2 separate regions of the Homo sapiens genome follow, and region 2 is linked to region 1. The links come from fine-mapping of genetic effects on gene expression. A gene starts in region 1. The other region holds a variant in brackets. All regions are shown on one strand. Distances are between the middles of the regions. Region 1 holds the start of NSMCE1 (NSE1 component of SMC5/6 complex). Region 2 overlaps NSMCE1 (NSE1 component of SMC5/6 complex).

Evidence for each region.
Region 2: its variant is fine-mapped to the expression of NSMCE1 in whole blood (TOPMed, PIP above 0.99).

The regions. Positions count from the first base shown.
Region 1 is chr16:27,266,306-27,271,676 of GRCh38, forward strand. It overlaps NSMCE1 (NSE1 component of SMC5/6 complex), which reads right to left and starts at 2,467. Exons shown (of 8, transcript NM_145080.4): 1 at 2,401-2,467. It overlaps NSMCE1-DT (NSMCE1 divergent transcript), which reads left to right and starts at 1,900. Exons shown (of 5, transcript NR_037184.1): 1 at 1,900-1,939. RefSeq lists a silencer at 2,361-2,440 and an enhancer at 5,349-5,371.
Region 2 is chr16:27,225,132-27,230,502 of GRCh38, forward strand. It overlaps NSMCE1 (NSE1 component of SMC5/6 complex), which reads right to left. Exons shown (of 8, transcript NM_145080.4): 6 at 1,589-1,705; 7 at 595-715; 8 at 1-105. The coding sequence ends at 26. Among named protein-coding and RNA genes, the nearest start is that of KDM8, 24 kb to the left of the region's middle. The variant G/A (reference allele first, on the strand shown) is at 2,228.

The DNA.
Region 1 (5,371 bases):
TGGTGGAAAAGGAGTGGGAAAAGTAGGAGTGGAAGAAAGACAACCATAAGCTTGTTTATGCATATTATGTCCCTTGTCTCTATGAGAAGAGACTGTAGGGAGAATGGTGGGATTAGCATAGACATGTATTACCTACTTAAATAATTTTATTTTATACAAAAATCAGCCAGGCGTGGTGGTGCACGCCTGTAATCCCAGCTACTCAGAAGGCTAAGGCAGGAGAATCGCTTGAACCCAGGAGGTGGAGGTTGCAGTGAGCCAAGATCGCGTCACTGCACTCTAGCCTGGGCGACAGGGCGAGACTCTGTCACAAAAAGAAAAAAAAAATTACTTTTTTTAAAAAAATTAATTAAAACAGTTTATTGGCTTTAAATGTACATCAGTAAATTTTTAAATGCTAAAAAGTTATGATAAAATAATACAGAACCAAAACATCAAAGAAAATAGAGGCTCAGCAGCATGATTTCAATATATTTTCCCGGATAAACAGATTTTTTTTCTAAGTATATGCCTTTTTATTCAAGAACAAAAACTCCCTAAATTCAATGTTTAGAACTGAATTTTTTTTAACTAAGCCCAGAAAACTGGGGCTCATAAAATAAGGCATAATGTGGGCAGCAAAAGAAAAAAGGAGAAAAAAAATGGGAGAAAAATTGGTTTTAATCCCATGTATAATATAGGTTGGCTGGTTTTGTTTTTGTTTTAGCCAATTTAAGGCAGAATTATCTCTCTGCAACCTTGCAGATAAATCCTAGTGTTTTAGCCATAAGTTTCAAGAGTTCATATATACAGATAAACCAATTAAAAAAACCTTTTCGAAGGCTTTTGAAGCATTATATAAATCTTTAAAATTCCTATCACCCACATTTTAAGAAATACATCTATACGTTTAAATTTATTATTAAATTAATTAAATGCATTAATTAAATCAATTTATTTAAATTTAATAATTTTAAAATAGAAATGTTTGTGGAATAAGTAAATCTCAGTCATACCATTCGTGCGGGTGCTAACACAATTCTAGTGCTTCACATGCCCGACCTCATTTAACCCAAACCAGAACAACCTTATGAGCAAAGGGTCACTGACCCCATCTTACAGATGAGGAAACTGAGACTAAGAGGGCACAAGGTGACACACAAGAGTTGGTGGCAGAGATAGACGTGACCATACAACAGCACAGTTCCTGTTTTCAAGGACACTCTCTATCCAGCGAGAGTGAGAAAAGTGAGTGAACAGAACAACTACAATCCAGGTCCCTCATCTGCAACCCTCAAATCTAAAAAGGTATGAATACTAGTGGATGATCGGATGCAGGGGAAAAAAAAAAAAAAGTCTGAATACCAAAACTTGTTTAAGTTGGAAAACTTGACCTGACTTAAGGTGAGGCTATTTATGGTTATTTATCCCAACAGTGTAAATATATGCATTTTTTTTTTTGAGACGGAGTTTCGCTCTTGTTGCCCAAGCTGGAGTGAAGTGGCACGATCTTGATTCACTGCAACCTCCGCCTCCCGGGTTCAAGCGATTCTCCTGCCTCAGCCTTCCGTCTCAGCCTCCCGAGTAGCTGGGATTACAGGCACGCACCACCACGCCCGGCTAATTTTTTGTATTTTTAGTAGAGACAGGGTTTCACCATATTAGCCAGGCTGGTTTCGAACTCCGAACCTCAGGTGATCCGCCCCCCTCAGCTTCCCAAAGTGCTGGAATTATAGCCGTGGGCCACCGCGACCAGGTCAATGTAATATATGCGTATCTTCATAACTTTAGCTGTGGAAAGGGTCGTGTATTTGATTACAAGCCGCTGCTCCAGCCCCCTCTGAGGGTGAAACCTAACATAGAACATAGGGACTTTACCTTTCCAAACTCCGAGAACTCCTCGATTTTAAACGCATCTGGCCTCGGGGCTGTAACATAAGCGGCTGCGGACTTGTACAAAGTAAGAAACTCCGTACACAAAACAGAGGGGAGCACGGAGGGCGGCGGGACAAAGAGGGTGGTCGGCAAAGGCTGTATTTTCCATAGATGTAATCACAGTTTGAATCGAATTTTATATTTTGCTTTTTCACCTGTTACAATGAAAAGTATCTTTACCTGTTAAATCGTAATTACGATTAAAAATATTTTTCACTAAATAGTAAGATTTTTAGATGTCTGCGTGTGTGTTGCGGGAGGACATCCCAGTCCGCTGTTTTCTGCGGCCCCTGTCTGGGCCTCAGTTTCCCCATCAAGAAGGGGGAAACCCCAAGACCCCAGTCCCCGAGTTCCACAGCCCACGGGGACCGACCCCGGGGCCGGACCCCACTGCCTGTCTCGCCCACCCCACCTTCCGTCCTCCCCTCGCCTTCCTTGAAGTCCCTCTTCTTTCCCCTCCAACCCCTAGCTCCCCACGTTACCCACCAGGGAGCCCAAGCGCATCCCAGGCCGCGCTAGCGGATACGGTCGCAAGGTGGACTCTTCTTCCTTTGAGGCGGGGCGAACGCGAACGCGGCGTTCCCATTGGTGGCCTGCGGCTTATTCGCCCGTCCGTTGAGTGACGCACTTCCGGTTCTCCGTTTGCGCCATTGCCCTGGTGGTTCCGCCTCGTGGGTTAGATCCCAAATTACGCCCGCTCTCGATCCTTAATAATGGGAAGGGGCTTCCACTTGTCGCCCTCCGCCTCCTGCACCTCAGTGACTTCCCTGACCAAGGAGGAAGAATTGGCGTGCAGCCTGGGCTTCCCTCAATGGCCACCATTCCGCTGGCACAATGTAGTGCCCTGCCCCGGGCCTCAGTTTCCCCATCTGTGGAACTGAGTGTGGCCTCGACGTCAAAAATGTGGACTCTGGTCCGGTCGCGGTGGCTCACGCCTGTAAGTAATCCCAGCACTTTGGGAGACCAAGGCGGGCCGATCACTTGAGGTCAGGAGTTCGAGACCAGCTTGGCCAACATGGTGAAACCCCCGTCCCTACTAAAAATACAAAAAGTAGCCGGGCGTGGTGGTGTGTGCCTGTAATCCCAGCTACCCGGGAGGCTGAGGCAGGAGAATCACTTGAACCCGAGAGGCAGAGGTTGCAGTGAGCCAGATCGTACCACAGCACTCGAGCCTGGGTGACAGAGCTCAAAAAAAAAGAAAAGAAAAATGTGGACTCTGTGGTCATAGAGCCTGATCTAGAATCCTGGCTCTGCCACTTACTAGTTGGCAGGCGCTTGGGCAAGTCACTGAGCCTCAGTTTCCTCTTCCATTAAATGAGGATATTAGTTCTTGCAAAATAGTGTTGGTGAGATTTACAAGAGATAATAACACCTATATCAGGTGCTTAGCATGGCCATTGAAAAGTGTCACATGGGAGTGCTGATTATATGTTAACTGTTATCTTACCTAGGGATTGTGAGAAAGCAAGTGAAATTACTCGTGGAAGTGAATGGACTGCTTTGAGTCTTCAAGGCGTTAATTTTCCAAACGTTTGAATTCTATCCCTGGTCTGAGAGCTAGGGATGCAGCCTAGCAAGGGAAACAGGTAACTAATATAGAACAGCAGTACCTGCAAATATCTGTCTCTGTGAGGATAGATCAAATCCAGGCTTGGTCACTCACCACCCCTGTGATCTTGGACAACCTCTTAACCTCTCTGGGCTTCAGTTTCATCTGCTAAGTGGGAAAGCAGTGGTGTGTGGTGATTAAAAGCTTCAGCTTTGGAGCTGGATGGTCAACATGGAATCCTGGGCCTTAAACTCAGTGTCTCTGAGACATAGGACAAAGTACAGTCAGCTGTCCATGTTTACAGGTTCCCCATCTACGGATTGAAGCAACTGTGGGTGGTTAATATTTGTGGGGGAAAACAGTAAAAAATAACAGTTCAACAATAAAAATAATACAGATTCCGAAAGCAATACAGCATAGCAATTACTTATATAGCATTTACATTGTATTAAGTATTGTAAGTAATTTAAAGATGATTTTCAATATACTGGAGGATTTGTGTAGGTTAAATGCAAGTATTCTCGCATTTTGTAAGCACCCAATGGTTCTCCTTGCCTGCTTCCTAGACAGAACCAATTTATCAAGACAGGGGAATTGCAATAGAGAAAGTTTAATTCACACAGAGCTGGCTGAACAGGAGACCACAGTTTTATTATTACTCAAATCAGTCTCCCTGGAAATTCAGGGTTTTCAAGGATAATTTGGTGGCTGGAGGTGCTGGGGATTAGAGAGTGTTGATAGGTTGGATCAGAGAGGAAAGGAGTCAAAGCTGTCCTCTTGCACTGAGTCAGATCCTGGGTTAGGACCATAGGACCAGATTAGCCAGATTACAGGGCTGGGTGGCGTCAGCTGGTGCATTAGAACACGGGTTCTGCAAAATATCTCAAGCACTGATTTTAGGTTTTAGAACAGTGATGTTACTCCCGGAAGCAATCTGGGGAGGGTCAGAATCTTGTAGCCTCCAGCTTGCGTGACCTCCTAAACCATAATTTCTAATCTTTTAGCTAATTTGTTAGTCTACAAAGGCAGACCCGTTCCTAGGCAAGGAGGGGATTTGTTTTGGGAAAGGGCTATTATTGCCTTTGTTTCAAAGTTAAACTATAAACTAAGTTCTTTCCAACATTAATTCCACCTATGTCCAGGAATGATCAAGGACAGCTTGGAAGTTAGAAGCAAGATGGAGTCAGGCCAGATCTCTTTCACTATCATAATTTTCTCAGTTATGCTTTTTACAAAGGTGGTTTTGATTTTACATAAGGGACTTGAGCATCGAGAATTTTGGTATCCATGGGGACTAAGGTACCAATCCCTCACAGATACTAAGGGATGACTGAGCTCAAGTTTTCAGCTTCAGTTTGCTCATCTATAAAGCAGGTTTAATAATAACACTTTGTTGATAATGTTATTCTGAAGATTAAAGGAAGAGTAAACGTAAACTACTTAGAAGAGTGTCTCTGGCACATTGTAAGCCCTCAATAAGTGTGAACTAACACCACTAATAAGTTCTTTATAAACTGCCTAATAGGTAGTCAAATAAGAGGGGAAATAAAGCCCTAAGGAGTAATATTTGTGTTTTGTTTGCCCTACATGGTTTTGTGAAATTTTCTATTCATTATCAATATTTAAAGTTGGGGTTTTCAATCTTTGACTGGGCATGATGGCTCATTCCTGTAATTCCAACACTTTGGGAGGCCCAGCTGGGAGGATGGCTTGAGCTCAGAAGTTTGAGATCAGCCATGGCCAACATGGTGAGGCCCCCATCTCTACAAAAAAAATATATACGCGCGCGCGCACACACACACACACACACACACACACGCAAAAATTAGCCAGGCATGGTGGTGAACACCTGTGGTCCCAGCTACTCAAGAGGCTGAGGTGGGAGGACAGCTTGAGCCAAGGAGGAAG
Region 2 (5,371 bases), 41 kb before region 1:
CCAGCCCCTCAGCAGGGCACGATGGCTAATGCTGCCTGGACCGCAGGGACTTTTTGTTCGATTTCAAGACACCAGACTCCCTCTCCTTCTCAGGGTCGAAGACTTCTGTAGACAGAAAAGGCAGGAAAGACACAGTGAATGGAGGGGCTGGCAGCACAGGGGCACCAGCTGGAGCCAGCAGCTACGTCTCCTGTGCCAAGGACTGTCCTAGGTCTACACCATCCTTCACTGCTAACCCTCCCCAGCCCGTGAGGAAGGCAGAGTTAGCCCCAGTTCAGAGAGGAACAAACTGAGGGAGCTGTGGACATAGCTTTCACGTCCCCCTCCTGAGAGGGCTGCCAGAGAGAGAGCCTTGTCTAGACAAAATGCTCATACACGTTGGAATTTCAGCTGGGTTCTAGAAAGTCCTCTGGAGCGGTGCACGTAGCTCAGCCTTTACTTCCTGCAGTGGCTTCTTCTAGGATTCAAGCTGCTAACACGGACCCCCACACACCCTGGAGCCCTTCAGGGCCCTGTCTCCAAGGGCTTCCCTGGCACCAGGCCCCACGTCCTGCTGGCCCAGCCCCTCCCATGAGCTCCTCAGGGCCCACGCACTTGGGATCTCGTGGGGCCAGTAGTCGTTGCAGTGGGGGCAGCGCGGTTCAGCATTCGACTGGAAGTACTTGGCCACGCAGGGTAAGTGCATCCTGATCCCACAGGTTTCGCAGCTTTGACCCTGAAACAGGAAAGGCCAATGACGGCGGAGCTGGTGCACACCTCCATGTTCTGCAAACCTCCGGGGAAGCCACAAGGGAAATGGGCAGCAGGTGGCATCGTGTTATCTTCTGGGCCCCAGATTAATATTGAAAATAATCCCAAACGCCTTAGTGCAGTGGAGTCTTTTGTTTGCTTGCTGCTTGTTGCGGTGGGTTTTACTAAACAATTCTGAACACATGAACGCAGTGACAGAAGCCGAGGGCTCCCAAACTCCTGCACTCAGATCCTGCAGGTGGCGTGTGGACAGCCACAGCTTTTCAGAAGCTTATTTGCTAATGTGAATCAAAAGCTTTCAAAAAAAAAGTGCACTTTGTCCCAGAAACTCCGCCCAAGGAAATAATCACCAGGTGCCCAAGGATACAGGTGTACGAGGCCCGTAAGAGCAATTGCAATTACAAACAGCTACAGCTGCAAAACGATAGAAACTGAAAGACACATCAATGTCCACGCTGGTTCAGCGGTTGCAAAGCCCTGCAAACCAGTGTTAAGACCACTCCAGAAAGCAGCAATCGACAAGAGACACTCACTACAAAACTACCAAGATGATGCAGGTTGCACAGAACACTCAGCCTTCCTGAGAAAAATAAAGTAAGCGAGGGCCCTTGGACCCCAACAGCAGAACCAGGGAGGAGGGCGGCAGTGCGTCCCTGCGGGGCACAGCAGGGAGGCGTCCTGACACGTCCTGGGAGATGGCCTCCGCCAGCTCTTGTGGGAGGATGCGCCAGCAGTGCAGGAGGGCTGGGCCCAGAGCCAGGATTCCGGGAAGTACCTGTACAGAGCCCCGGGAGCCGAGGGCCCAGTGATGAGCTCCCGTGCCCTGCCCTGCGGGTACCTGGATGAGGAGGCTGTGACAGATATTGCAGATCTTCACCGCGTCGGGGTACGTCTCCCGGATGTATTGCTCCATCTCCAGGATGGCCCGGCCGTGCAGGGTGAACTCCCCTTCCTTCTGCAGGGACACACAGGAGGTGGCCACCCTCAGCCAGGCCCTCTCCCCATTCACCACCTCTCTTCCCTCTGTGATCCCACAGCCCAGTGCTCAGGAAGACACAAGGGTCTACGCAGCTTTTCACCAACCCCAGCCAACGGGCATCAGCCACATCCCCCTGGCAGAGCCTCGGCAAGGGAAACTGAGGCAAAGACCCTAAAGACATGGAGGCGTGGCTCCCTGACACCCGCCTTTTCTCAGCATCTGCTGTGCCTTCAGACGTGACTTCTCTGTCTGCACGGCAGCCTCGAGGGAGGCAGTCACAGCCCTCCTGCAGATGAGGACGCTGAGGCCCACAAGGGGGTCAGTCTCCCCAGGGTGCAAACCCAAACACCCACTGCTGCCATCCGCCACCCATCCCACTCCCAAAAAGCAGCATCCCTGGTGCCTCCCAGCACTTCTGCCTCCCAGCACTTCTGCCTCCAACTGCAGTAGGGACCCTCAGAGATCACTTCCAGCCACATCACTTTACAGATGGAGCTG[G/A]AAGGAGTCTGGAGAGGGCAGACAGGCCCCATCACACTGTGGGCAGTGGAGCCTCCAGTGGAAGCCAGGCCTCCTGGTTCCCATGCCAGGGTGCGGTCCACCCATCATGCATCCTGAAATCCCTGGGAGAGCCCGGAAGCACAAGAACAATGCAGCTCCCCAGGCCGACCCTACTGCCAGGTCACAGGAGAAAGGCAGCACTGAGGGAGACCCAAGGCAGGCAAATGACACGGGACCCAGGACATGGACCCATGCAGGCTGATTCCAGTTTCTCCACAGTCAGCTCATGCATCGGATATGAACCACACCAGGAGATGACGTCACTGACGCCTGCAAGTCACCCGAGTGCTCAACTGCCTTTTCTGTTATTTTCTAATTTTTAATTTTTACAAGCAAGAGCTGTCACTCCCGTTTCTTTTCTTTTCTTTTTTTTTTTTTTTTTTTGAGATGGAGTTTTGCTCTTGTTGCCCAGGGTGGAATGCAATGGCACAATCTTGGCTCAATGCAACTTCCGCATCCCGGGTTCAAGCAATTCTCCTGCCTCAGCCTCCTGAGTAGCTGGGATTACAGGCATGCGCCACCACGCCTGGCTAATTTTGTATTTTTAGTAGAGACAGGGTTTCACCATGTTAGCCAGGCTGGTCTTGAACTCCCGACCTCAGGTGATCCGCCCACCTCGGCCTTCCAAAGTGCTGGGATTGCAGGCGTGAGTCACCGCACCCAGCCCACTCCCGTTTCTGACAGGTAGAGCCCCCCACCCCATTCCCACCTTCATCCCCACAGTGCAATGTGGAGGGGTGTGCTTGCGTAATCTGGGCTCACAGTGCGTTCGCTCTGGAACACCAGTAGAGGAGCTGGGTGAGCACAGGAAGGAAGGCAGGGCAGAAGCGTGGGGTTGGGGCATGGACAGCCGCTGCGGGAACAGTGGAGGGAGGCCGGGGCACCAGGTGCTTGTGCCCTGCACCGCAGCTGTTGCTGGTGCACAGGGGCTTTGTGTCATCCAAGTGCTGTGGGCAATGGGAGGATGTGACCAGCCCCCAGGCTGTCCTCGGTCCTCAGTCCTATGGCTGTTACCTTCCCCCAAAGCTCCCAAATCCATCATGGCACCCCACCTCCCTGGCCACCGCCCTCTTCCAGCCTCCCCTCCAGATCCATCACGGCACCCCACCTCCTTGGCCCCCACCCTCTTCCACCCTCCCCTCCAGATCCATCACAGCACCCCACATCCCCAGCCACCACCCTCTTCCACCCTCCCCTCCAGATCCATCATGGTACCCCACCTCTCCAGCCCCCACCCTCTTCCACCCTCCCCTCCAGATCCATCACAGCACCCCACATCCCCAGCCACCACCCTCTTCCACCCTCCCCTCCAGATCCATCATGGTACTCCACCTCTCCAGCCCTCACCCTCTTCCACCCTCCCCTCCAGATCCATCATGGCACCCCACACCCCCAACCACCGCCCTCTTCCGCCCTCCCCTCCAGATGCATCATGGTACCCCACATCCCCGGCCACCGCCCTCTTCCACCCTCCCCTACAGATCCATCATGGCAACCCACCTCCCCGGCCTCCACCCTCTTCCACCCTCCCCTGCTCCTGCTGCTCTCTGAGCCCACTCTCCTCCAGCAACGCACTCGCTACCGAACAAGCCTGGCCCTGTCACTCCCAACTCACCCCCACCCCAGGGCTTCCCACCACCCTTAGGTCCAAGAGCCAAGCCCCTAATACGCGTATCTCCCGGGCTGCCCTCCGTCTGCTCGCCTCGCAATCTTTGTGCTCAGATGGCCCTGGCCTTAGCTTCTTGAGTGCACCTGCTGGCCACAGGGCCACTGCCGGGCTGATGATCCTCCCACCCCAGGCTCCAGGCAACTCCCACACAGCCTTCAGCTCAAGTGTCACTTCCTCAGCAGCTGAGGGCCGGTTCCTCTGGGACAGCTGTCATAAAGCCATGTTTCCTTTCCATCTGTACCAGGACTGCAGTGAGATGACCGTCTCACTGATCTCGGGCTCCCCCTCCAGACCATGGCCCCATGGGAGCGGCCACCAGCTCTGGCTGTGCTCACTCCTGTGTCCGCAGCACCTGCTGTGGGGCCCAGCACTTGGCAGGCCTGTGATAAACACCCACGGGAAGATGAAGTAGACCTTGCACTGATCCCAAAGGAATGCCTGACACTAAGCAAGTTCAAGCTCAGACTGAGGCAGGAGCTGCATTTATTTTTTATTTATTTATTTGAGACAGAGTTTCGCTCTTGTTGCCCAGGCTAGATCATGCAATGGCACGATCTCAGCTCACTGCAACCTCTGCTTCCAGGGTTCAAGCGATTCTTCTGCCTCAGCTTCCCGAGTACCTGGGATTACAGATGCCCGCCACCACACCCAGCTAACTTTTTTATATTTTTAGTAGAGACAGGGTTTCACCATATCGGCCAGGCTGGTCTCAAACTCCTGACTTCAAGTGATCTACCCGCCTTGGCCTCCCAAAATGCTGGAATTACAGGTTTGAGCCACTGCACCCAGCCAAGCTGCATTTACTGAACACCTGCTATGTGCCTGAAACTGCACCCAAGGCTCACCATTCATGACCCACTCAGTCCTCTGAGGGCCCATCAGGGGAGGGGCAGGAGGGATGCCCTAGCCCTCAAAGACGACGACAGCCCAGGTGATCTCCCAGGCGCCTCGCCACAACACTTGGAAGTCAGGACCTCGTGTAGGGAGCAGTCCTGGGGTGTATGGAGGTGCGCCGATCAGCAGACGCCCAGCTCCCATGAGCCGCGCTTGCTCTCAGAGGCCTCCCCGCTGACCCCAACCACCTACCACCCCTGGGCCTTCTCCTGGACGGACAGCTGCCTCAGCACCTCCATGCCGGGCCAGTCTCACACAGGACTGGCTGTCCAGGAGTGACGTGTCCTTGGGGTGATATACCCACCTGGAAGGGCCTTGTCAGTGGGCCCCTGGCTATTTCTGTGGGAAGCCCTGTGTCTGAGAGGCCAAGGATCAGACACTGACATGTGGTCTCTCTGATCGAGGTGCTGCCCTAGGAAGACCTGTCCTGGGTAAGTGAGCACCCGCCCCGGTTCTCAGTGATTCCTCCAGAGTGCCGCAGACCTCAAGGCAACCCTTACCAGGCCATGTAGGTCAGAGAG